Homo sapiens: one gene and its partners. The protein of the gene in region 1 binds, or shares a complex with, the protein of each later gene. Each region holds a gene or a part of one and is shown on either strand. Other genes may lie near its edges. The genes, in order: TFDP1, E2F5, E2F4 and MYBL2.

Region 1 (7,030 bases):
TTACAGGCGTGAGCCACCGCGCCCGGCCTAGCTAACTCTTTTAAGTAGAGGTGTGACATTTGAGTTTTGAAAAGATGATGTTGGCAGCTTTTGCAGAAGGGAACATCGATAACCAGTTAGGTGTTTTGTTTTTGTTTTTTGAGACGGAGTTTTGCTTGTTGCCCAGGCTAGAGTGCAATGGCGCGACCTCAGCTCACTGTGACCTTGGCCTCCTGGGTTCAAGCAGTTCTTCTCCTCAGCCTCCCAAATAGCTGGGATTACAGGCGCGCCACCACACCCAGCTAATTTTTTGTTAGTAGACACGGGGTTTCACCATGTTGGCCAGGCTTGTCTTGAACTCCTGACCTCAGGGGATCCACCCACCTCGGCCTCCCAAAGTGCTGGGATTACAGGCGTGAGCCGCTGTGCCCAGCCCACCAGTTAGGTTTTTAAAAGCACTGGTACTGCAGTAAAACCACAGGTGTATGTCAAAAGCCTTTATGCTGGGGGAAAGCTGTGCCACTTGGGTTGAAGGAGGCAGGCCTCCAGCTTCTAAGTGCCCTGGGGCCTCTGTAGAGGGCCATGAGGGGCCACAGGATGCAGGGAGCTGGAGCTAGGCCCTGGTAGTCACCATGGAGGAGGAGAAACAAGGACATCCAAGACCTGAGGCTGGAAGGTTCTGGAGAGAACACAAGAGAAAAACAACTCCGGAGCTTCCAACCTCAAGTAGGGCACAGGGAGACAAGCGGGTGGGAAAAGGCCACAAATGGCTCCATGTGAGTGAGGGGCAGAAAGAAGAGGATGAGGTCAGTCCTCTGGGGGTGTCATCTTTGAACAGCAGTTGACAGGCAGTGGGTGTGAAGGTCTATATGGCAAGGAGCTACACACGAGGGAGGAGAGAGGTACTCTGAAAAGTTTGCAGAGTGGGTAGGAAATGACTGTGGAGCAGTGAGGAGAGTGATCAGTGATGGTGTAGTAGTTAGAGAGTGAGTGGTGGTGGACTTGATGGAGAGTGAGTGGTGGTGCTGGAGTGGTGGAGAGTGAGTGGTGATGGTAGATTGGACGGAGAGTGAGTGTGGTAGACTCGGGGACAGTGAGTGGTGATGGTAGATTGGATGGAGAGTGAGTGGTGGTAGGACTGGGGGAGAGAGAGTGGTGATGGTGGTGTAGGTGGAGAGTGAGTGGTGATGGTGGAGTTGGTAGAGTGAGTGTGGTGATGGTGTTGTGGGTGGAGAGTGAGTGATGGTAGTGTTGTGGGTGGACAGTGAGTGGTGATGGTGGTAGACTGGAGGAGAGTGAGTGTGGTGATGGTGTTGTGGGTGGAGAGTGAGTGGCGGTGCTGGAGTGGGTGATGTAGGGTCACAGAAGGAGGAAACAGCCTAGAAGGTGGCTGCCTTTGATGGTCCTTGAGTGGGCCCAGCTGGAGAAATGGTGAGAAGGATTAGGTTTCTGTTGTCTTGCTCAGGGACTTTTTATTTTATTGCACTTATTTGAATTAAAATGGTAAATTCAAATGGAATATTTGTGTTTATACTCTGTTAAGTGGGAGAATGTGGAGAACAGGAGTCAGCTGCCATACGGCCACCTGGCTGGCTCCGGGAACCTGAGGCCTGGTCTTGCCCAGCAGGAGCGCTGGCATAGCATGGATCACTTACAGAAATTTATGATCAAGATTATGGGCTGCTCCTGGCAATATGGGGAGGATTTCCTTGCTGTGGGGACTGTCTGTTTCCATGCCTGGCCCACCCGGTCTGTGATAGCCTCAGGTGCAGTCCTGTCTTAAGTTTGGAGACACCCTGGGAGGTCCGTACAGACTCTTTGAGTTTCTGAACTGTCCTCGAAACATCTCAGGCCCTCCGCCTCAGGGCCTAGGGAGGCTGTCCTCTGGTTCCTGAACAGGGTGGCTCTGACCCGCAGATCTGTGGGCTCCCGTTGCAGGTACCGGTGGTGCTCGGAACCGTCCTCAGATTCAGTCTTGGAAGGTGCTTTGGCACCTCCTTAGAGTCGGACAGACCCTTGTCACGAGTCAGTCCAGCTGCAGGGGCTCAAGTTGTTCTAGAGCTGGGCTGGCAGGGCCCTTGGGTGAGGGAGTGTGGCTTGGCACTGGCATCTCAGCCTGCGGCCAAGTTTCCTGCCTGCCCAGGCAGCATGACCCTTGGTGGGATCAGGCAGAGCTCTGCCTCTCCCCTCCCTACCTCGGAACATCCTGTCGTCACACACGATTGTCCAGTGTCATGAAAGTTTGTAAGTGGGAAGGCAGGCAGATGATGAATTCATCAAACATTACAGGGATGCTTTTGCTGTAAGACTTCGGGATGTAGCCCGTGTGGGGCTGTTTCTGGGGTCCCGTTCGCCTCTCCAAGCTCCTCCTGCCATTGGTAAAGATGCAGGGCATCTGAACTCGCTCTTGGGCTGTGCGGGCACTTGGACCTGGTCAGCTCCCTGTGCAGAGAACGTGGCTGTGGACGTCACTGCCCGGTATTCACGTGCCTTGGTTGTGAAAGCCGTTCTGTGGTGCCTGTTTGTGTCCTGTGAGTTTATGGGGAAATCCTGAAATTGAGAGCTGGGGACCAAGAGAACTGTGTGCGTCCCACCATGGAGGCGTTTGAGTGATGCTGTCACGAGGCTCTGCTAATGCCAAGAGGGGACCAATGAGCTCCTCTAAGGGTCTACCACCAGGTGTCCTTTTACAGACCTGGATGGTGAAGTTCAGGCCTGAAGAGGTGAACCTGATGCAGCAACAAACTGCTGTTTCCTTCAGTGCTTGAAGGAGTGAGTTCTGGGAACAGGATTCAGCGACTCAGGCCTTCTTTTGTCCTCATAAAGAAACAACTTTACATTTGAGGTTAAGAAGGTTGTCAGTTTAGCCCCCTCAGGTTTAAGTGTTGAAGAAATCTATGATGACGTGCTTGTTTTTACAAGAGTCTTTTCATATTTCAGGATTTTTTTTTTCTACATAGGATGAGGTTAGAGAAACTCTGAAGGGATATTAAAAATTAGAAAATTATAGGTTGGGCCGGGCGCAGTGGCTCACGCCTGTAATCCCAGCACTTTGGGAGGCCGAGGCAGGTGGATCACAAGGTCAGGAGATTGAGACCATCCTGGCTAAGAGGGTGAAACCCCTTCTCCACTAAAAATACAAAAAATTAGCCAGGCATGGTGGTGGGCGCCTGTAGTCCCAGCTACTGGGGAGGCTGAGTTAGGAGAATGGCGTGAACTCGGGAGGCGGAGCTTGCAGTGAGCAGAGATCACGCCACTGCACTCCAGCCTGGGCGACAGAGCGAGACTCTGTCTCAAAAAAAAAAAAAAAAAAAAAGAAAAAGAAAATTATAGGTTAATTAAAAGTTTTGCCCCTGCTGGGCACGGTGGCTCATGCCTGTAATCCCGGAGGCCAAGGCGGGTGGATCACCTGAGGTCAGGAGTTCGAGACCAGTCTGGCCAACATGGCAAAACCCTGTCTCTACTAAACATACAGAAATTAGCTGGGCGTGGTGGCGGGCGCCTGTAATCCCAGCTACTCTCGAGGCTGAGAAGGAGAATCGCTTGAACCCGGGAGGCGGAGGTTGCAGTGAGCCGAGATCACGCCATTGCACTCCAGCCTGGGTGACAAGAGCAAGACTTCATCTCAAAAAAAAAAAAAAAGAAAAAAGTTTTGCCCCTAAAACATGCTTTAAAAGAGGTATTATAGGAACATCTGGTATAAAATTCAAAGAATAAAAAAGGACATCTTTTTTCTTACATAATCAGCTCTTTGTTAGCTCTTTACTTTTGGTATTTGGAAGAAATCTCTGGAGTTCGTTGTGTAAGAATTGGAAACCTCACCTTTGGTGCACAGCTCGATTTGCAGTAGAAGTATCAGGTGCTCTTTAGGGGATGTTAAAAACTTTTCACTCTTGGTATTTACATTAAAAAATACTTTGTTGTAGAACAATTAGAAAATCCAGATTTGCAGTTGATATTTAGCTTGACTTACAGTGTGGCTTTCTGCTGTTTGTCATAAGAGACTAGATTTGTCAAGTTTTGCTTAGAGAGGAGGACTGGTAGCAGCAGGTGGCTTAGACTACGTGTGGGGATGGATCTGCGAGGGGAAGGGCAGATGTCAGCGTTGGCTGAATTAGAGGCTGAATTAGGTGACCCCTCATCCCCCAGGTGTCTTACTCAGATGATTCTGGTTGTTCGGGTACTGGCCATGCACTGCTCTCTGTATCTTTGTGTGTAGCCCAAGCCTGGAAAAGCATCCGCCCTTTGTACCTTTTTCCCGACTGGCTGAGATTCCCGCAGCATCCCGACTCCGCTTCAGGGCTCCTGTGAGGACAGGGACTATGGCTTTTAAGTTGTCGCACAGGTCATGGGCACTATTCACATGTGCTGCAGGTAATTTTGAGACTCAAGGATGAAGAGTTATATCTGCCTCTTCCCGTTAGTCTTTTATGTGAATCCTGTTTGTTTGTTTGTTTCGAGACGGAGTTTCGTTCTTGTTGCCCAGGCTGGAGTGCAATGGCACGATCTTGGCTCACCACAACCTCTGTCTCCCGGGTTCAAGCGATTCTCTGACCTCAGCCTCCCAAGTAGCTGGGATTACAGGCATGCGCCACCATACCCTGCTAATTTTTTGTATTTTTAGTAGAGACGGGGTTTCTTCATGTTGCTCAGGCTGGTCTTGAACTCCCGACCTCAGGTGATCCGCCCGCCTTGGCCTCCCAGAGTGCTGGGATTCCAGGCGTGAGCCACCGCGCCTGGCCATGAATCCTGTTTTTCTATGGTCCAGTTTCTAAGGGATTCTGGTCTGATGAATGAAAACCTTGTGTGTCCCCTGTGGCTTTGGGATACAGTATCTTTTAACACAGGTGCTTGCCCTGTGCACCCTGGTCTTCTGTTCATTAACATCGCGTCACTGGGGTCTGAGGAAAAGAGACAGTGTGATCCGCTCCAGTGAATGGGGAAGCAGGAGAGGGTCAGAAACCTGAATGGGTCAGCCCAGAATCCAGCATTGCCAACACATCCCTGGCCCTCCCCTCCTGCCCAGGTGACAGGTGTGGCATATGCTGGTCCTCAGCCCTGCCCAGGAGACAGTTGTGGTGTCTGTGGGTCTTCAGCCCTGCCCAGGTGACAGGTGTGGTGTGTGCTGGTCTTCAGCTGTGCCCAAGAGACAGTTGTGGTGTGCACGGGTCCTCAGCCCTGCCCAGGTGACAGGTGTGCTGTGTGCTGGTCCTCAGCCCTGCCCAGGTGACAGGCGTGCTGTGTGCTGGTTCTCAGCCCTGCCCAGGTGACAGGTGTGCTGTGCACGCGTCCTCAGCTATACACAGGTGTCAGGCGTGATGCGTGTGGGTCCTCAGCCCTGCCCAGGTGACAGGTGTGGTGTGCGCGGGTCCTCAGCCCTGCCCAGGTGACAGGTGTGCTGTGTGTGGGTCCTCAGCCCTGCCCAGGTGACAGGTGTGCTGTGTGTGGGTCCTCACCCTGCCCAGGTGACAGGTGTGCTGTGTGCTGATCCTCAGCCCTGTCCAGGTGACAGGTGTGCTGTGCACGCGTCCTCAGCTATACACAGGTGTCAGGCGTGATGCGTGTGGGTCCTCAGCCCTGTCCAGGTGACAGGTGTGGTGTGCGCAGGTCCTCAGCCCTGCCCAGGTGACAGGTGTGCTGTGTGTGGGTCCTCACCCTGCCCAGGTGACAGGTGTGTGTGCGGGTCCTCAGCCCTGCCCAGGTGACAGGTGTGCTGTGTGCTGATCCTCAGCCCTGTCCAGGTGACAGGTGTGGTGTGCGCGGGTCCTCAGCCGTGCCCAGGTGACAGGTGTGCTGTGTGTGGGTCCTCACCCTGCCCAGGTGACAGGTGTGGTGTGTGCGGGTCCTCAGCCGTGCCCAGGTGACAGGTGTGCTGTGTGTGGGTCCTCACCCTGCCCAGGTGACAGTTGTGCTGTGTGCAGGTCCTCACCCACCCAGGTGACAGGTGTGGTGTACACGGGTCCTCAGCTGTGCCCAGGTGACAGGTGTGGTGTACGTGGGTCCTCAGCCCTGCCCAGGTGATAGGTGTGGTGTGCGCGGGTCCTCAGCCGTGCCCAGGTGACAGGTGTGCTGTGCACGCGTCCTCAGCTATACACAGGTGTCAGGCGTGATGCGTGTGGGTCCTCAGCCCTGCCCAGGTGACAGGTGTGCTGTGTGCTGATCCTCAGCCCTGTCCAGGTGACAGGTGTGGTGTGTGCGGGTCCTCAGCCGTGCCCAGGTGACAGGTGTGCTGTGTGTGGGTCCTCACCCTGCCCAGGTGACAGTTGTGCTGTGTGTGGGTCCTCACCCTGCCCAGGTGACAGTTGTGCTGTGTGCAGGTCCTCACCCACCCAGGTGACAGGTGTGGTGTACACGGGTCCTCAGCCGTGCCCAGGTGACAGGTGTGGTGTACGTGGGTCCTCAGCCCTGCCCAGGTGATAGGTGTGGTGTGCGCGGGTCCTCAGCCGTGCCCAGGTGACAGGTGTGCTGTGTGCAGGTCCTCACCCAGCCAGGTGACAGGTGTGGTGTACACGGGTCCTCAGCCGTGCCCAGGTGACAGGTGTGGTGTACGTGGGTCCTCAGCCCTGTCCAGGTGGCAGGTGTCCTGTGTGTGGGTCCTCACCCTGCCCAGGTGACAGGTGTGCTGTGCACGCGTCCTCAGCTATACACAGGTGTCAGGCGTGATGCGTGTGGGTCCTCAGCCCTGCCCAGGTGACAGGTGTGCTGTGTGCTGATCCTCAGCCCTGCCCAGGTGACAGGTGTGCTGTGTGCTGATCCTCAGCCCTGTCCAGGTGACAGGTATGGTGTGCGCGGGTCCTCAGCCCTGCCCAGGTGACAGGTGTGCTGTGTGTGGGTCCTCTGCCCTGCCCAGGTGATAGGTGTGGTGTGCATGAGTCCTCAGCCCTGCCCAGGTGACAGGTGTCCCGTGTGCTGGTCCTCAGCTGTGCCCAGGCTTGGGCTGTGGGTGCCGCCCGTTCCCAGTGGACATGGAATCCTTGTGTTACTGAGTGACCTGCGTGTGCTGGTTGCTGCACCAGCGGGCTTTTCTGTCGCAGTTGCTTTTTAATTGTAT
Region 2 (7,471 bases), on another chromosome or scaffold:
TAATCCCAGCTACTTGGGAGGCTGAGGCAGGAGAATCGCTTGAACCCGGGAGGTGGAGGTTGCAGTGAGCAGAGATCTGCCACTGCACTCCAGCCTGGGTGACAGAGCAAGACTCAGTCTCAAAAAAAAAAGGCTTTAACGATCTTTTACTATGGTGTATAATAAGAAATATCATTGGAAAGATTTCAATGTAAGATTTTTGGCCGGGCGCGGTGGCTCACGCCTGTAATCCCAGCACTTTGGGAGGCCGAGGCGCGTGGATCACAAGGTCAGGAGATCGAGACCATCCTAGCTAACACAGTGAAACCCTGTCTCTACTAAAATTACAAAAAAATTAGCTGGGTGCGCTGGCGGGCGCCTGTAGTCCGAGCTACTCGGGAGGCTGACACAGGAGAATGGCGTGAACCCGGGAGGCGGAGCTTGCAGTGAGCCCAGATCGCGCCACTGCACTCCAGCCTGGGCGACAGAGCAAGACTCCGTCTCAAAAAAGAAAAAAAAAAGATTTTTACATATATAAGTATATATAAATAAATGAAAAATATACGTAAAATACATAAAACATATGTTTTTCATACATATATATGAAAACTAAAGACATTCAAACTCTTTTCTAGGAGTATGAAGTCATTAATATAATGAGACAGTGTTATTGTAGAAACCTTTGAATTTTTAGGAGAGTTCCAGAATGAATAAAGCAATTATTGTCATGAAATACCAAACTTTACATCCTACTCACTGCCTCTGTGACTTCTGTAGGGCAATTATATAGCCACAGATGAAACAGGAGGAAGCTAAAGAATTTCAAGTCAAGAAAGGGCAAAGTTCCACCATATCCTGAGGCAAGCTGAGGGAGAAGCCCTCAAAGTCCAGCCGTCAGAGTTCAGTTTTACCTGGAAAACCCCAAACTTCCCTGATTTTCTTACACCAAAGTCACAGGCTACAGCTGAATTTCTAGATTTTGAACAGCAGTTTGCCACCTGTGCTTTGTAACATTCCTGGCTTTCTCTGATAACTTCATGACTTCCTGTGAAATTCTTTAAACAGAATCCATTTTAATTCACTACAATTTAAATACTACACATGCCATAAATCACTTTCAGGGAGAGAAAGGAAGAAGGGGCTGTGGTGGAAAAAAGAGAACAAGGAATTTCCAGAGGTGGGAAAAAAATTCCAGGAATAACATATCAAAAAGAAAATAGTAGAAATTACTTACCAAAATGCAAAATATGTGCAGCATGCCTCAGTTGTATGAAGTTGAACAATTTAGGTAATTCAGTTCAACAATCACTGATTGAACACCAACTACATCCAGGGAAAGGAGAGGGCACTGAAAAGATCTACTTCCCCTTGGGCTACACTGGAGGAGGGCCTCTAGCAGAAGAGTTGGCCCCTGCAAGTCTTGGTCCTTACATTCAGGGAGCTGCCACTGCTTTATGCAGAGCCTTGAGGATGCAGTGACACTCTCAAGCCAGGTAAGGTGGTCCAGGCACTCCCCTGGGAGCTGGGGCCAATCCTCCAAGTAAGGCCACATTTAGGGAGTCAAAGGGGATTTGCAGTGATTATTGGGCAGTTAGTGTTTTTTGTTTGTTTGTTTCTAAAACTTTAGTTCTTAAACTTCGCGCGGAGTGACCACATTCTCATTATCCTGAGCGCTGTTGAATTCTTCCAAATCCTTCCTAGATCGGTTAAGTCATTCTGTATGACAGAACAGCTTTTGATGCCTGCTCCTGTTTGAAAAATCTGAACGCTGTAAAGGACGACGCAGGGAGAGAGTTTACTGAGCACTTCCACCTCTTTGGGTGAAAGTTGTAAAATATCCCCTTTTCGTGTGACAGCAGATCTCACTTTTGGAAACCCATGACACATGCCAAATGAAGTCACAAATCAAATACCCCTCCTAACTATCAGGGTGATGAAAGAAGTGCACAAGGAAGATTTAATACTATTTTATCGGGGAGGGGCGTGGAAAGAAGTACTCTTTTTTTTTTTTCTTTCATCTGGTAGAGATGGCAGACTGGGTTTTGTTTTTCCTCCTTTTTATTTAAACTACAGGAACATGGTTCCAACTGGAATCGCCTATTAAAACCATCCATTCTTAACAGCAAAATCGATATCCACGGTGTCTCCGGGCAAAGCGCCCGTTACCCCGTGAGCCTCTGCCACAGGTGGACGCAGAGCAACAGACACTCGGTTACCCTCAGGTCCCTGCGCCCGGAGACAGAAGCCACGCGGGCGCGCTCGAGGTCCTGGGCTCTTTGTCGAGAGCCCAGCGTGGCGCCGGGCCCCATTGGTTACGCGTCCGCTCGGTGCCATCCTGGTCCCTCGTCCCTCCCCCATCCCGGCGTCCACGACCCGGGCGCAGGCCACATGGTCCTCGGATTGCCCGGTCCCGGGTCCCCGCAAGGCGCGTCTACACCACGCCGCTAGACCCACGCGGCGAGGGGCTGGGCTTCCCCGGGGGCCACGGGTTCCGAAGTCCGCCCCCGTCCCCGCCTCCGGAGCTCACCGCTTTGAGATCCAGAACGCCGTCCTTGGCCTCCTGCAGCAGCGACACGAACTTGGTAGTGAGCAGCCCCAGGCTCTTCTCGTGCCTGCTGCTGCCGCCCCCGGCGCCCCCGAGCTGCGGCGGCGGGGGCGGCTGCGGGGCTTGCGCCTGCGGAGGCTGCGGCGGCGGCCGCTGGCCCTGCCCCTGCCCTGCCGGCGCCTGCTGGCCCGAGCTCGCGGGCTCTGCCGCCGCCATCGCGTCCCGGCCCCGCGGTGGTCGGGCCCCCGCGCACTTTCGCTCGCCGGCCCCGCCCGCGGCCACCTGCCGGGTCGGCTCCGCTGCGGCCGCTTCCCCGCCCGCCGAGAGCGGTAGTGCGGGTCGCTGGCTGCTGCAAACAACAGGTGTGCGGCGCCCACGGGAGTCTGGGCCGCTTGTCACGCCGGGCCTCCGCCCCCTCCCCAAGCCCGGGGAAGCGTGAATGAGGCCCACGACCGAGGGGGGAGGGGTGGAAACGAGGAGAAGGGGCTGCGAGGGGTGGGGACCTGAGTTTAAATGGCAGGAAGTGACGCCGCCGCCCGCCGTTGCCTAGAAACACATTTTTCTGTAGGAAGGAGGAGCGCACGAGGAGGAGGAGGGGTGTTGGCGCGTGTGTTTCACACTCGCCTCCCTGGCGTTCGCGAGCTGACCCGAGGAGTGGTAATCTCACGCGGCAAAGCAGGGAGGAAGAAAAAAAGGAGACAAAAGAAAAAAAGACTTTTATCTGGGCAGAAAGTCACAATGCCTAGCGGCCAAACGTTTGTGAGCGGTGAAGTTGGTTGACTGCTCAAGTTTGCAGAGCTTCAGCAGTAGGTTACTTTCTCTGGACGGTTTCTGCTATCTTTGCTCTTTTCGAGCTCTAGCATCGTTTGCAAATATTTCAATGACTTGGACCAAGTGCAGAGTTTTACTTCATAGCTCACCCTTTTAGATTCGGAGTACAGAAAAAGGCATCGTGGAGTTTTAGGGTTGGTTTTCATCAATCCTTTCCAAGGCCTTTACTTTCTACATGGAGAAACGTGTAGAGGGAGAGGTTGTGAATTGCCAAAGACATGCCGTTAGATTCCAGATCTCCTGTGTTTGACCAAAGTTCTTGACCAAAGTTCTTAATATCTTATTTGAACCAAATTATATTGTATTTGGAATATTGGGTAGCCACAGGCCCTTGGACTTCAGTGATATTCCAAACTATTGATGGCAAATGACATTATGGAGATCTGAGTAAAAGAAAGTCGTTGGGATTTTTTCCTCATTATATTACAAACTCTTGAGAATCCAGACTAAATTTTAAATGACTTGTTGTCACACTCAACACTTTGAATATAGTAGACAATAAAGATTAGGCGAATGAGACCAGGCGCGGTGGCTTACGCCTGTAATCCCAGCACTTTGGGAGGCCGAGGCAGGCAGATCATTTGAGATCAGGAGTTCGAGACCAACCTGGCCAACATGGTAAAACCCCGTCTCTACTAAAAATACAAAAATTAGCGGGGGGTGGTGGTGCCCGCCTATAGTCCCAGCTACTCCAGAGCCTGAGGCAGGAGAATCTCTTAAACCCAGGAGGCAGACGTTGCAGTGTTGCAGTGAGCCGAGATGCCACCACTGCACTTCAGCCTGGGCAACAAAGCAAGACTCTGTCTCAAATAAAAAAAAAAAAGATTAGGTGAATGAAAATTCTATATGGCAATAATTAATCAAGAAGATTTCATGCAAGAAAGATTTTGCTTAATTTTAAGTAACAATAAACTAACAAAAAAGGTCACTGAAGCGACATCAAATACAACAGCATTAACTAGTAAAGCTGAACACACCATTTATAACACATCATAGGCACAGAACTTTATAACCTTTATTAATAACCTATTCATAATAACCTTTATTTTAATCAAATCTATAAACAAAACTTAAAATTGAAAATCTGAAGTAAAACATGAAAAATTCAGTTGATACAACCATTTTCCAACAACCTATCCAAGAAAGGCTATCTTTATTTGATTTGACATGGGACACATCATTGACAAGTTTTGCAAATTTATTTTATTGATTATTGTCAAGTAGTATTTCTTAGAACATACTGAATTAGGAAGATTCTAATTTGTTTTTAACTTTATAACAGAACATTGTGTTATATGTGCAGGGACAGGAATTAATAACACTAAATGTATTAATATTTTTAAAACTTACACTTCTATGGTGTCTTAGTTTGAGAAAGTACCATAAACTGGGTGACTTAACGGAAATTAATTTTCTCACAGTTCTGGAGGCTGCAAGTCGACGATCAGGAGGCTGCCATGGCCAGGTTGTGGTGAGGGCCCCCTTCTTGGCTGTCAGATTGTGGCTTTCTCATTGTGTCAAATGGCAGAGAGAGAGAGAAAGACAGACAGAACAGAGACAGCATAAGCTCTCAGATTTCTTATAAGGGCACTAATTCCATCTGAGGGCTCAATCTTCACGATTTCATCTAAACCTAATCACCTCCCAAAGGCCCGAGGGTTAGGGTTTCAACATACAAATGTTGGGGAGATATAGTTCATCCCATGGCATGTAATCATATTTTATAGTAGCTATCTTGGTAATTTTTAAAAACAATATTTTTTAAATTTCAGCTTTAAAAGGTTTTCTACAAAGCAATTATATTATTAGTGATTCTAAAAGGTCAATTAACAATTTATTTTGCACTGTTATTTGTGTTTTTCACAATGAATTTTTTATCTCTTTAGATTGCCTGGGGTTCAATTAGAAATTATTCACAAATTAGCAGCCATTTTAATTAGCATTCAAAATCTTATGTCTGTCTGAAGAGCTAAAAATCGCTTATACCAGTGGTTCCCAGACCTTAGGGGAAAAAATCATCTACAATGTTTGTTAAAAATCTAGATGCTTGGATCCAAACCCCAGGGATCAAATTAGCATTTGATATGAGAATATGACCTGTGAGTCCACATTTTTCACAGTTCAGATAATTCTCATGCACAACATAGTCATTCTTTGAGAAACGCCAAATAGCACAATGAAAAATAATGCAATATATATTTTTCCTAAAAATCGACAAAAAACAGAGATTGATAATGCAAAAGTTTTTTAAATATTGCTAAATGTTTTTAAAAATTCTATTTTTTAAAAAAACTAAGAAACATGATTTTTTAAAAGTTATGATACAAATAATGTTTAAGAACATGATATTGATCAGTTTTGTAATTTAACTTTTATTTCTGTATCCTTTTGACTATAAAGGAGATAACTCTCAAAAGGCTGTAAATTCCTACATCAGTTCTTTGTGCCATTTCTGACAAAGGCTTAAAAATTATTTCCAACAAAAGTCAAAGCTGGCTGAGTGCTCACGCCTGGCTGGGCACTCACGCCTGTCTGTAATCCTAGCACTTTGGAGGGCTGAGAGAAGAGGATTGCCTGAACCCAGGAACTCAGGACCAGCCTGGACAACATGGCAAAACCCCATTTCTACAAAAACTACAAAAATTAGCTGGGCGTGGTAGTGCACACTTGTAGTCCCAGCCACTAGAGAGGCTGAGGTGAGAGGATCACTTGAGCCCAAGAGGTCAAGGATGTAGTGACCTGTCATCCTGCCACTGCAATCCAGCCTGAGTGACAGAGTGAGAATCTATCCTAAAAAAAAAAAAAAAAAAAAAAATCCAATTGAACTAAACTATATTTCATTGACCTATAAGGGTAATAAATGCATAACAGTAATCCTTCATTAAATTCAATTTACGCTGATTAGTTGGGTAGATACTATTTTCAATTATAATATTGTTTATATGCCCCTGGTTAAATTTTCTTTTTTTAAATGCATTTTGGAAGTGCAGCTCCTTAGCTAGTTCAGGACTAAGAAGGAAGGCTTAAATATTTCAAAACAGAATGATTTCTTAGTCCACAGCTCATTAAACTTATAGTATCTAACATTTGTGGAATTTCACAAATGCCATTTTTATAGAGATTCAGGATCAATTTAAAATATGCACAGTTTTGTCATAATCTGGTAGTTAAATATTTAAGAAAATCCAACAAAATTTTACTTGTTTATTGATGATGACAGACTGACTTTTTTTTTTTTTTTTGAGATGGAGTTTTGCTCTTGTTGCCCAGGCTGGAGTGCAATGGCATGATCTCAGCTCACTGCAACCTCTGCTTCCCAGGTTCAAGAGATTCTCCTGCCTTAGCCTCCCTAGTAGCTGGGATTACAGGCATGCACCACCATGCCCAGCTAATTTTGTTTTTTTAGTAGAGGCAGGGTTTCGCCATTTTGGTCAGGCTGGTTTTGAACTCCTGACCTCAGGTGATCCACCCACCCTGGTCTGCCAAAGTGTTGGGATTACAGGCATGAGCCACCATACCTGGCCATGCAGACTGATTTTTTAAGTGCATTAGCCCATTCGGTGATCATGAATGGTTGGAACTTTAGACTCTCAGATGCCCTTTGAGCTAACAAATCTCCATCAAAAGACTGCTACATCAACCCTAATACCTTCTTCTTGTAATCTAAGTTAATGAAAATAAAATACAGTTTTCCATTTTTCCTTTCAAAACCTTGCAACATACAGGCCAGGCACGGTGGCTCACACCTGTAACCCCAGCACTTTGAGAGGTCAAGGTGGGTGGATCACCTGAGGTCAGGAGTTCGAGACCAGCCTGGCCAACATGGTGAAACCCTGTCTCTACTAAACATACGAAAAATTAGCGAGCATATTGCCATGCGCTTGTAATCCTAGCTACTCAGGAGACTGAGGCAGGAGAATCACTTGAACCTGGGAGGCAGAGGTTGCAGTGAGCCGAGATCGCACCATTGCACTCCAGCCTGGACAACAAGAGTGAAACTCCGTCAAAAAAACAAACAAACAAACAAAAAACCTTGCAACATACAAACATCTATCTTCTGCACTTTCTATGTTAAAAAAAAAGATATGTTTCAAAGATTATGAATCTTTTTATTAT
Region 3 (4,294 bases), on another chromosome or scaffold:
ACCAGCCGGGTGACCTGGTCCAGCTGGATGAGCTGCGGGATGGCGTCACGCATCTTGATGGCAATCTTCACCACGTTCCGCGGAGGCGCCATGGTCCAGCTGGGACGTGGGCGCCTGCACTTTCCGGAGACCGTGCACCTGCGGCCAAGGGTGCACCTGGCCTGGGGCCCCTGGGGACGAGGAGGTCCTCCCTTTCCGAGACCTGACCTCGGTGTCCCGCACTCGCGGCCCAGACTGCTGCTCCTGGCCATGCAACGCGGCCTTCCCAAGGGAGCCGAGGTTAGTTCCGGGTTGGAGTCTGGGGGTAGGAAGGTAGGACGGCTCCGCCTGCCCCGCCCCGCCGAGGCGGCCCCGCCCCACACCAAGGTGCGGCAGGTGGGGGCGGGGAGGGCAGGCTGCCGGAGGCCGCCCCACCCCTAGTTCCAGCAAGGTGACCCACCCAATCACACTGCCAGTCCAGCACAGTCCCAAGGAGGGTCCCCAAAGAACCACATCAGAGCTAGCCTTAGGCATGGTTTTTATTCACTTGAACACTGTACAAATATTACAATTTCCTTTTGCTGCAAAAAGTATAAAAATAATCTTTATATAGGAATCCATTCGTTACTGTAAATCTTTCTAAATCTCTGCAAATGGCTCTAAATGAGGGTAAATGAAAAAGCCGAAATGAAGAGAGGGTTATGGGGCAGCAGGAGGTGGGGCCAATCATCAGGGCTGGACCACCCAGACTCCTCCCCAGAGACCTCTGTTCCTTCTTGGTAGCCGCCCCCACCACCTGCAGGTTCTAGGGCTAAAGGCCCAGCAGAAGTGGGCACGTGAGAGGGCCAGGAGGAGCTGGAGGGTCAGGGGGTGGGGGATAGCGAAGGAAGCTAGAAGTGGTGCTGGCATGTGCCCAGTTCCACCCCACCCTTCCCTCCTAGGGGAAGGAGCTGGCAGAAGCAAGACACTGAGGCTGGCAGGAACAAGACACTGCCCCCTATGGGGGGTAATGGCAGCTCCTCGGTTCTGTGCCACTGGGTGGCAGCCGAGCCTGGGCTGGCGAAGGCCGCAGAAAGGGAGAAGCAAACACTTTGGCTCCACGGTGATGGGGGCTGAGTCCTGTTCCCCTGCTCTGCGAGCACAGAAGTGCCAGCACAGGAGCGGGAGCTGTGGCCAGAACTGTGCGGTGAGGGGAGGCCGGAGAAGCCAGGCGTCTGTGGCTCTCAAGCTCTGTAGGGGTCGGGTGGGAGAGGTCCCCAGGCAACCCCCAGGTCAGACAGTCTGGGTCCCAGCCACACAGGGCATGTCCCTGTCAGTCAGAGGTTGAGAACAGGCACATCAAAGAGGTCACAGACACCTTCACTCTCGTCCAGGTTGTAGATATAATCGTGGTCTCCCGGGGGTGGAGAAAGACGAAGCAGAGGGGCAAACACTGCAGAGAGCACTAGTCTCAGGCCCTGGGCCAGGGCTCCCCTAGCAGCAGCCCAACCCCTGCCCACACCCACTCCCACCTTCCAGGGCCACCCACCTTCTGAGGACATCAACTCCTCCAGCAGCTCCGAGCTCATGCACTCTGGGAATGGAGGGAGCTCAGTTACTAACATTCCAGCTCCCACCTCTCCACCCACCAAAGCCCAGGAAAGGGAACCCCACCTGCCCATCAGGAACTTCACCCTTTGCCCCAGTTACCATAAGCGCCACAACAAGGTCCTCAAAAGGGCAAGAAAACAGCCATAGGACCCAATGAGCTGTGTCCCTTACCCCTAGCCTCAGGGAGGAATGCAGCAGCCTACCTCGTGTGGGATCAAAGATTTCTGACAGCTCTTTGGGGAGTTCCAAAACTGAAAAACAAGAAAGCCATGCTCAGGGCACAGAGGTCCAGCCTGGCCCCACTACAGCCCCCTGGCTTCCTCGGATCCTATACCACCCACCCTGAGGCTCCACACAGCTAAGGAGATGTAGGTCCTGCCTAGGCCAAGCTGGCACTGTCTGTTGGCCTCACTTGCTAAACCTGAATTCCTCAGTGCTGAGCCCAGGGTACCAAAGGCCCCCTGCAAGCGATTGGTACAGCTTTTCTAACTCGGAAAGGCCACAGAAGCCTCTTTCTGGGCTCAGCATGCACCCCCTGTCTGACAGAAGGTACCCCATCTGTCCCACCCTTGCTGAGCACCTGCTCTGTGCAAGACTGAGACCAGACCCTGGGTCAGGTCACCAGGCAGAGGTGGTGGCGCTACAGGGTGATGACTCCACTACAAACCTCTGGCCAGGAGGACACAGGGGAAGCAGAAGAAAATGCAACCAGAGAGGACTATGAGGGATTTCACATGCCAGGCTCAGGAGTTCAGATCTTATCTGGTGGCCCTCAAGGAGCCATTAAAGGTACTTTTGCAAACAGAGAAATGCCACATTTTTCTGTCAGGCCTGCATTTCAGAAAGATTAGTCTGTCAGTCAGGGTAAAGAGAAAGATGCTGAAGAATCCAGGACAGAGGTGGCCAGGGGTCATCCTGAGTGCTGAGGATACCAGAGGATAGGAGGGGACATCTGGGACAGACCTCAGTTAGCTGGCATGGGGTGGGCAGCAGAAGGAGGAGGGATAAGGAACTAGAACTAGAGTGAGAGCCAAGGGTCAGGCCTGGATAACTAGGGCTGACGGCTGGGTGCGCAGAGGTGGAAAGCAAGCTTCGGGAGGAAACTAAGTTCAGTTGAGGACATGCAGGAATAAAGTGTCCATTGGATGTACACAGGACGGCAGGTGGACACCGAAGTGTGCAGATTGGGAAAAGATCTAGGCCAGGCGGAGGCTGGGGATTCGTTCACCCAGAGCTGCAGCCCTCTCCAGGAGTGGAATGGGACAGAGCCCTCAAAAACAGCAATGTTTAAGGACACGCCAGGGAAGAGTTCAAGAAGCCAGTGAGATAGGAGAGCCAAAAGCTGGCATCATGATGCCAAAGGAGGAAAGAATATTGACACAGACCAAGAGAGCACCAGCAAAACACGCTGGAGGCTGCTGGGCTCGGCAGGCCTTCGGCAGCTTCTCAAGAGTAACACCGCTGTAACACTGGGGCTGGGGGGGTGACTGCTGCAACCTGAAAGGTGACTAGGAGACTAATGAATGGAGATTACTTTTTCAAGGAGTCCAGACAGAAAGGAGACAGAGAAGATGAGAGAGAGTGATACAGAGAAGTGTCAATTAGTGAGGCGGTGCTCCAAGGGGTGGCAGGAAAGGGCTTGAGAGACGGCAGGGAGTTCTGTGTTAGCCTAGGATGGGGTGCTAGAGGGGGCACCAGCACTGACCCAGAGGTGCTGGCAGAGAGCTCTCGTGTCCAGCAGGGTTGACAGGAGATCTGGGTTCCATCCCCAATTCTGTTTTCTGACCTAGGACTGGACTGAGGCTAGACTCTCTCTCTCTGCCCCCAGGGGGCAGGTACTCACCACCTGTGGGGTCTGCCTTGATGGGCTCAAAGGAGGTAGAAGGGTTGGGTCCGGACGAACTGCTGCTGTTACTGTTGCTGCTGCTGCTGCTGCTGCTGCTGCTGCTGCTGCTGCTGTCCAGCAGGGCAGAAGACTGCAGTGGCCGGGTGTCCAGTGTTGTTGGGCCCAGTGGGAGTGAACTGAGCTCACCACTGTCCTTGCTATCAGTCCCAGGGCCGCCACTCACTACAATGATAGCCCCCAAACCCAGTCATACAAGGTCAGGAAGAGGTCGTTGAAACTGGCTGTGCTGGAACCCAGACACAGGAGGACCACAAGCCTGGTTCCCAGACCCAAGGAGAATTAGGCATTGCCAGTCACCCCCAGAGGAAGTAACCTGAAATTAGTCACCACAGGAGACAGGGACACAAGACCTACAGAAGAAGACTCGTGGTCAACATGTCTGCTGTGGCCATACTTCAAGACGGGCTACCAGGGCAATTGAGACACCAGTGGATGTGGATCTGGGGGAGAAAACTGCCACCAGCAATGGCTCTTCCCACAGTCAGAGGTTCCCTGTTAAAAAGGGCCCATTCAGGCAGGCATGGTGGTTCAAGCCTGTAATCCCAGCACTACAGGAGGCCGAGGCAGGCAGATCATTTGAGGTCAGGAGTTCGAAACCAGCCTGGCCAACATGGTGAAACCCCATCTCTATTAGAAGTACGAGAATTAGCTGCGCATGGTGGGCGCCTGTAATCCCAGCTACTCAGGAGGCTAAGGCAGGAAAATTTCTTGAGCTTGGGAGGCAGAGGTTGCAGTGAGCCAAGATCGCGCCATTGCACACTCCAGCCTGGGGGACACAGTGAGACTCCGTCTCAAAAACAAAAACAAAAAAGGCTCATT
Region 4 (7,030 bases), on another chromosome or scaffold:
TGAGCAGAAAAGGTTTGCTTAGCACGCATCTGGAAAAACATCTTTCATGATTTAAAAGGAGTTTACCACTCACACAGCAAGTTTTAGAAAAAACAAAACAAGCTAGTCATGGTGGCTTCTGCCTGTAATCCCAACACTTTGGGAGGCCAAGGCAGGAAGATTGCTTGAGCCCAGGAGACCAGCCTGGGCAACATAGCAAGACCCTCTTCTCTATTTAAAAACAAAAAACAAAAGCAATACAAATAATACAATACAAAAAAAAAAACCCAATCCTAAAATTAAAGACATCTATGATGTTAACTATGGGTTGAAAACAAAACAAAACAAAAAACACTGAAGAACTGAAGACACTAAGAAAAACTGAGGTAAAATAAAAAGGCCAGTAGAAGTCTAAAATGGTACAATCCATTAAGAAAAAGGCAGTTTCTGTAAAACTAAACATACACCTACCCCATGACCATACCTATCTTCCCAAAAGAAAGGGAAACATGTATTTGCAAAAAGACTTATGCAAGAATCTTCAAGGTAGCGCTATACACGATAGCCAAAAACTGCAAACAGTCCAAACATCCATCAACAGGTGAAACGCTGTGTGGTATACCCATACAATGGACTACTATCCAGTGATAGAAAAGGACAAGTTACTGAATCACCCAACACAATGCTGAGCAAAAGCCAGACGCAAAGAATGTAACCGTATGATTTCATTTATAGAAGATTCAAGAACAGGCAAAACATATTATCCTAAGCAAACACAGGAACAGAAAACCAAATACCGCATATTCTCATCTATAAGTAAGAGCCAAACACTGAATACACATGGACACGAAGAAGGGAACAAGGAGACCAGGGCCTACTTGAGGGTGGAGGGTGGGAGGAGGGTGGAGGGTGGGAGGAGGATGAGGATCAAAAAACTACCTATTGGGGCTGGGTGCAGTGGCTCACGCCTGTAATCCCAGCACTTCAGGAGGCTGAAGTGGGAAGATCACCTGAGGTCAGGAGTTCAAGATCAGCCTGGTGAACATTTTAGTAGAGACAAGTAGAAACCTTGTCTCTACTAAAAATACAAAAATTTACCAGGCGTGGTGGCACGTGCCTGTAATCCCAGCTACTTGAGAGGCTGAGGTAGGAGAATCGCTTGAACCCAGGAGGCAGAGGTTGCAGTGAGCTGAGATCACACCACTGCACTACAGCCTGGGCAACAGAGAGAGACTGCCTTAAAAAAAAAAAAACTACCTATTGGGTACCACGCTTATTACCTAGGTAACAAAATAACCTGTACATCAAACTCCCACGACATGCAATTTACCTATATAATAAACCTGCACATATACCCCTGAACCTAAAGTTAAAAACAACACACACACACACACACACACACAAAGCCCCCAAAAAGAAAAAGGCAAAACAAATCAAATCAGCAATTTCCTGGAGCTGGGGAAGCCTGACCACAAAGGACCACAGAAAACTTCTTGGGATAATCAGGGTGGTGCTTACATTGGTATATGCATTTGTCAAAAGTGATCAAACCGGCTCACCGTAGTGGCTCATGCCTGTAATCCCAGCACTTTGGGAGGCCAAGGTGGGTGGATTGCTTGAGGTCAGGAGTTCAAGACTAGCCTGGCCAACATGGTGAAACCCCATCTCTACAAAAATACAAGAATTAGCTGGGCATGATGGCGGGTGCCTGTAATCCTAGCTACTCAGGAGGCTCAGGCAGGAGAATCGCTTGAACCCAGGAGGCGGAAGTTGCAGTGAGTGGAGATCACGCCATTGCACTTCAGCCTGGGAGACAGAGACTCCATCTCAAAAAAAAAAAAAGAAAAAAAACTGATCAAACTGTTCACCATAAAAAGGGGCATTTGGCCAGGGACAGTGGCTCATACCTATAATCCTAGCACTTTGGAAGGCTGAGGTGGGAGAAATGCTTGAGCCTAGAAGTTTGAGACCAGCCTGGGCAACATGGCGAGACCCTGTCTCTACAAAAAATACAAAAATTAGCCAGGCGTGGTGGCGCATGCCTGTGGTTCCAGCTACTCAGGAGGCTGACGGGGGAGGATTGCTTGAGCCCAGAAAGTTGAGGCTACAGTGAGCCATGCTAGCACGGCACTCCAGCCTGGGTGACAGAGCAAAAACCCTGTCTCAAAAAGGAATTAAAAAAAGGGCATTTGATTGCATATGATTACATATAAATTATATTTCAATCACATTTATTATAAAATAAAAAGATGGAGCTAGAAGGAAACCAATTCAGGGCTTGATGTCAGAAGGTTCAATACAGTTAATTATTTTAGAAAAAGAAAGTGGGAGTTGGCAGGGTGCGGTTACTCATGCCTGTAATCCCAGCACTTTGGGAGGCCGAGGCAGGTGGATCACCTGGGGTCAGGAGTTCGAGATTAGCCTGGCCAACATGGTGAAACTCCGTCTCTACTAAAAAATACAAAAATTAAGGCCGGGTGCAGTGGCTCACGCCTGTAATCCCAGCACTATGGGAGGCCGAGGCGGGCAGATCATGAGGTCAGGAGTTCGAGACCAGCCTGGCCAGCATGGTGAAGCCCCCGTATCTACTAAAAATACAAAAAAAAAAAATTAGCTGGGCATGGTGGCGCATGCCTGCAATCCCAGCTACTCGGGAGGCTGAGGCAGGAGAATTGCTTGGAACCTGGGAGGCAGAGGTTGCAGTGAGCCAAGATCATGCCACTATACTCCAGCCTGGGTGACAAAGCGAGACTGTCTCAAAAAAAAAAAAAAATTAGCTGGATGTGGTGGCTCACGCCTGTAATCGCACCTGAGGCAGGAGAATCGCTTGAACCCAGGAGGCAGAGGTTGCAGTGAGCTGAGATTATGCCATTGCCCTCTAGCCTGGGTGACAAGAGCGAAACTCTGTCTCAAAAAAAAAAAAAAAAAAAGGGTGGGGGGAGTTACAGATTTGGCCAAACCTCCTAGCAGTCAAAAGGCAAAAAGCACAATCAATGTCCATGACATAGAACATGGCAGCTGCTCAGGAGACACAATGGGCCCTGAGGTCTAGGACACACATCCCCTTCCCACCCACTGAGTCCTCAAAATTGAGAATCCCCCAGAATGCTCTGAGAAGAGGCATGAGGACAATCAGAGGACCCATCCCTTCCTTCACCGGCTCCTCCTCTTCATCCCATCTGATGAGACATCAAATACACTCCAGGCTCAGTTCCTCTGGACAGCCCCCAGCTGCCATCAACCCTCTCTTCCCCATGGCACTCACCTCCTCATGGGTCCATTTGACCTTGCACTTGCTATCCCTCTGCTCCGGCACATCTGAATCTGTGTCCTGGTAGTGCAGCTCATCCAGATCCTCGCTATGGGGAAAGCAGGCCAAGGGTCAAGGATGGTGTGTCCATATGTTTTACATAATGGAGAACGTGTAGGCAGCGGCCAGCCCACCCTAGGGAAAGGTCTGGGGGAGAGAGGCTCTTACTTTTTCTTCTTTTTAAGACATAGGCACTTCTGCTTCACTTATTTTTATTGAGACAGGGTCTCACTCTGTCACTGGGCTGGAATTCAGTGTGGCATGATCGTAGCTCACTGCAGCCTTGAACTCCTGGACTCAAATGATCGTCCCGCCCCAGCCTCCTAAGTAGCTGTGACTACAGGGGTATGCCACCACGCCCGGCTAACTTTTGTATTTTTTGTAGAGACGGGGTCTCACCATATTGCCCAGGGTGGTTTTGAACTCCTGGGCTCAAGCAATCCTCCCACCACGGCCTCCCAAAGTGTTGGGACTATAGGCATGAGCCACCACACCCGACCTCACCTCTTTTTAAATTTTTTAATGAAATAGGGTTAAGAGCTACTTTCTTCTTTTTTATTTTCAGGAATGCCCTAGTGATTTCAAAAGCTGTAAAAAAAAAAAAAAAAGAGGCCAGGCACAGTGGCTCAAACCTGTAATCCCAGCACTTTGGGAGGCCGAGGTGGGTGGATTGCTTGAGGTCAGGAGTTCAAGACCAGCCTGATCAAACACAGTGAAACCCCATCTCTACTAAAAATACAAATATTAGCTGGGTGCGGTGGCGCATGCCTGTAATCTCAGCTACTCAGGAGGCTGAGGCAGAAGAATTGCTTGAACCCGGGAGGTGAAGGTTGCAATGAGCCGAGATCATGTCACTGCACTCCAGCCTGGGTGACAAAGCAAGACTGTCTCAAAAAAAGAAAAGGAAAAAGAAAGTTAAGATTTCACCAAGAATATTATGTTCAAAATCAGACTATCGCTTTTTCCTTTCAGTAACAAACCTGCATGGATATTTTAAGGAATAAAGTTGATGAAGTTAACAGGCATCAAGATTTTAAGAGATATTAGTTATTTGGAAAAAAAATTCTGAATATATTCTCTATGTCCATTTGTTGTTTTTCTTCTTTTAGGGACAGAGTCTGGCTCTGTTACCCAGACTGGAATGTAGTGGCATAATCACAGCTCACTGCAGCCTCCAACTCCTAGGCTCAAGCAATCCAATTCTCCCACCTCAGCCTCCCAAGTACCTGGAACAACTTGCATATGACACTATGCCTGGCTATTTTGTATTTTTTTGTAGAAACATCTCACTATTTTGCCTAGGCTCATCTGGAACTCCTGGCCTTAAACAATCCTCCCACCTTGGCCTCCCAAAGTGCTGGTATTACGGGCCTGAGCCACTGTGACTGGCCAAGTTGTTTTTTCGTGTGTTGATTTTTTTTTTTTTTGTAATGACAGGGTCTCAGTATGCTACCCAGACTGGTCTTGAACTCCTGGGCTCAAGGGATCCTCCTGCCTCAGCCTTCCAAAGTAACTTGGATTACAGGTGTGCACCACCGTGTCTGGCTTATGTCCATTTTTGCAAATCCCTTTTCAATCCTTGCCTACACACAGGCATAATTAATGGAGAGAAAAATCAGTGTACAGTATCTATTTTTTTTTTTTGAGACGGAGTTTCACTCTGTCACCCAGGCTAGAGTGAAGTGGCGACATCTCAGCTCACTGTAACCTCTGCCCCCCAGGTTCAGGCGATTCTCCTGCCTCAGCCTCCTGAGTAGCTGAGATTACAGACGCCTGCCACCGCGCCCGGCTAATTTTTTTTGTATTTTTAGCAGATACAGGGTTTCACCATCTTGGCCAGGCTGGTCTTGAACTCCTGACCTCGTGATCCACCCGCCTTGGCCTCCCAACGGGCTGGGATTACAGGCGTGAGCCACCGCGCCCGGCCCAGTGTACAATATCTTCTAACGCCGCTGTAGGGGAAAAAAAAAAAACAGTACGAGCTGCTTTGAATTCTGGGTGTTTTTACTCTACAAGGCAATCTTCCAAGTTGCTCCAAAAAATCCTCGTATTTATCCAGTTTAATAGTTACAAAAATGGAAATCGGGCCAGGTGTGGTGGCTCACACCTGTAATCCCAGCACTTTGGGGCCAAGGCAGGCAGATCACCTGAGGTCGGGAGTTCGAGACTAGCCTGACCAACATGGAGAAACCCCGTCTCTACTAAAAATACAAAATTAGCCGGGTGTGATGGTGCATGCCTGTAATCCCAGCTACTCAGGAGGCTGAGGCAGGAGAATCGCTTGAACCTGGGAGGCGGAGGTTGCGGTGAGCCAAGATCAAGCCATTGCACTCTAGCCTGGGCAACAAGAGCGAAACTCCATCTCACAAAAAAAAAAAAAAAAAAAAAAAATGGAAATCAGCCGGGCGCGGTGACTCATACCTGTAATCCCAGCACTTTGGGAGGCCGAGGTGGGTGGATCACAAGGTCAGGAGTTCGAGACCAGCCTGGTCAACATGGTGAAATGATGTCTCTACTAAAAATACAAAAAAATTAGCTGGGTGTGGTGGCATGCGCCTGTAATCCCAGCTACTCGAGAGGATGAGGCAGAAAAACTGCTTGAACCCAGGAGGCGGAGGTTGCAGTGAGCAGAGATCAGAGATTGTGCCACTGCACTCCAGCCTGGGCGACAGACGAGACTCCATCTCAAAAAAAATAAATAAATAAAAACCCACAAAAATTAGCTGGGCATGGTGGCATGTACCTGTAGTCCTAGCTACTCGGGAAACTGAGGCAGGAGAATTGCTTGAACCCAGGAGGCAGAGGTTGCAGTGAGTCAAGATCGTGCCACTGCACTGCAGCCTGGGCAACAGAGGGAGACTCCGTCTCAAAAAAAAAAAAAAAAAGAAAAAAAAGAAATCATAGGATCCACCTCCAGAGATGTCAGGTGCTTGAGGAAAGTTAGTAATCTTTCCCCAACTCCACCCGACAGGACCTGCATCAGGTCACGTTGGTCAGGTAAGTTGCTAGGTCAGACATTTGTAAACTGGAAAAAGCTTACAGGTTTCCAAACAAGGCAAGTCTTGTTTGGAAATGAAACAAATGAAAGAAGGCTTACTGTGCTATCCACATTACCTTCTCCTTGTTCTCCAAAGCTCACCGTTGCTTCCTAGAGTCACTCCTATACTTCCATAGCACATGGGAAACCCTCCTGTCTCGGGCCCTTACACTGCAACTGCCTGTCTCCTCCACATCATCTACAAAGGTCAGCTCCACCTTGGCATCCCAGGGTTTATCACCAAAAGGGCTTAAGAAATGTTTGCCCAGGGACTGACTGAATATACAAATAAATGAAAAAATGTGCAAAGCTGCTGCCTATTAGTCAATAAGAAATACTAATTAAATTTTTTAGGCCAGGCAAGACCCAATTTCAAAAGAAAAAAATTTTCAGAAATAGGAAAGGAGGGACGGTGTCTACAGTCAGCAATACAGAAGGATCTGGAATTCATTCCTGACCCAGTTCATGGGTCCTCCACCACTTCAATATAGAAGGCAAAAATCCAGAAGATACTAATAACAGAATGAAGTTGGCTTTAAAATCAACTGCCCCCAGACAGCTCGTGACAGAAACCATCTTTGCTTCTCCAGCATCCAGCACAAAGGCCTGGCTTCTAACAGAAGGTCAGCAAATATTCTTTCAAGGATGAAATGATGTCTGCATGGACACTCCCTGGTGCTCCAATGCTGTTTGTTTGTTTGTTT

Evidence for each region.
Region 2: the proteins of TFDP1 (region 1) and E2F5 are in contact, whole or in part, in a crystal structure (PDB 5TUV), measured with the Homo sapiens proteins. Residues at the interface, in NP_009042.1 of Homo sapiens: Glu201, Cys202, Leu205, Glu208, Arg209, Arg212, Leu213, Arg215, Ile216, Lys219, Gln220, Leu223, Leu226, Ile227, Gln230, Phe233, Leu236, Val237, Arg239, Asn240, Arg241, Arg249, Pro253, Ser255, Val256, Ile257, His258, Leu259, Pro260, Phe261; in NP_001942.2 of Homo sapiens: Val126, Arg129, Leu130, Lys134, Glu136, Ile137, Leu140, Glu141, Glu144, Leu147, Asp148, Gln150, Lys151, Leu154, Gln155, Ser157, Ile158, Val161, Met162, Ile166, Asn167, Asn168, Arg169, Phe170, Ser171, Tyr172, Val173, Thr174, His175, Asp177.
Region 3: TFDP1 (region 1) and E2F4 share a complex: the UniProt entries of both Homo sapiens proteins name them as parts of the DREAM complex.
Region 4: TFDP1 (region 1) and MYBL2 share a complex: the UniProt entries of both Homo sapiens proteins name them as parts of the DREAM complex.

The regions. Positions count from the first base shown.
Region 1 is NC_000013.11:113,587,736-113,594,765, forward strand, and holds part of TFDP1 (transcription factor Dp-1), read left to right. Parts: intron 1-7,030. UniProt on the Homo sapiens protein: Can stimulate E2F-dependent transcription.
Region 2 is NC_000008.11:85,172,690-85,180,160, reverse strand, and holds the start of E2F5 (transcription factor E2F5), read right to left. Parts: upstream 3,008-7,471; 5' UTR 2,741-3,007; coding exon 2,507-2,740; intron 1-2,506.
Region 3 is NC_000016.10:67,195,125-67,199,418, reverse strand, and holds the end of E2F4 (transcription factor E2F4), read right to left. Parts: intron 3,638-4,294; coding exon 3,413-3,637; intron 1,821-3,412; coding exon 1,773-1,820; intron 1,553-1,772; coding exon 1,508-1,552; intron 1,412-1,507; coding exon 1,296-1,411; 3' UTR 501-1,295; downstream 1-500. Other genes in the region: ELMO3 (engulfment and cell motility protein 3), read right to left, coding at 15-92. UniProt on the Homo sapiens protein: Transcription activator that binds DNA cooperatively with DP proteins through the E2 recognition site, 5'-TTTC[CG]CGC-3' found in the promoter region of a number of genes whose products are involved in cell cycle regulation or in DNA replication.
Region 4 is NC_000020.11:43,670,114-43,677,143, reverse strand, and holds part of MYBL2 (myb-related protein B), read right to left. Parts: intron 3,339-7,030; coding exon 3,245-3,338; intron 1-3,244. UniProt on the Homo sapiens protein: Transcription factor involved in the regulation of cell survival, proliferation, and differentiation. Transactivates the expression of the CLU gene.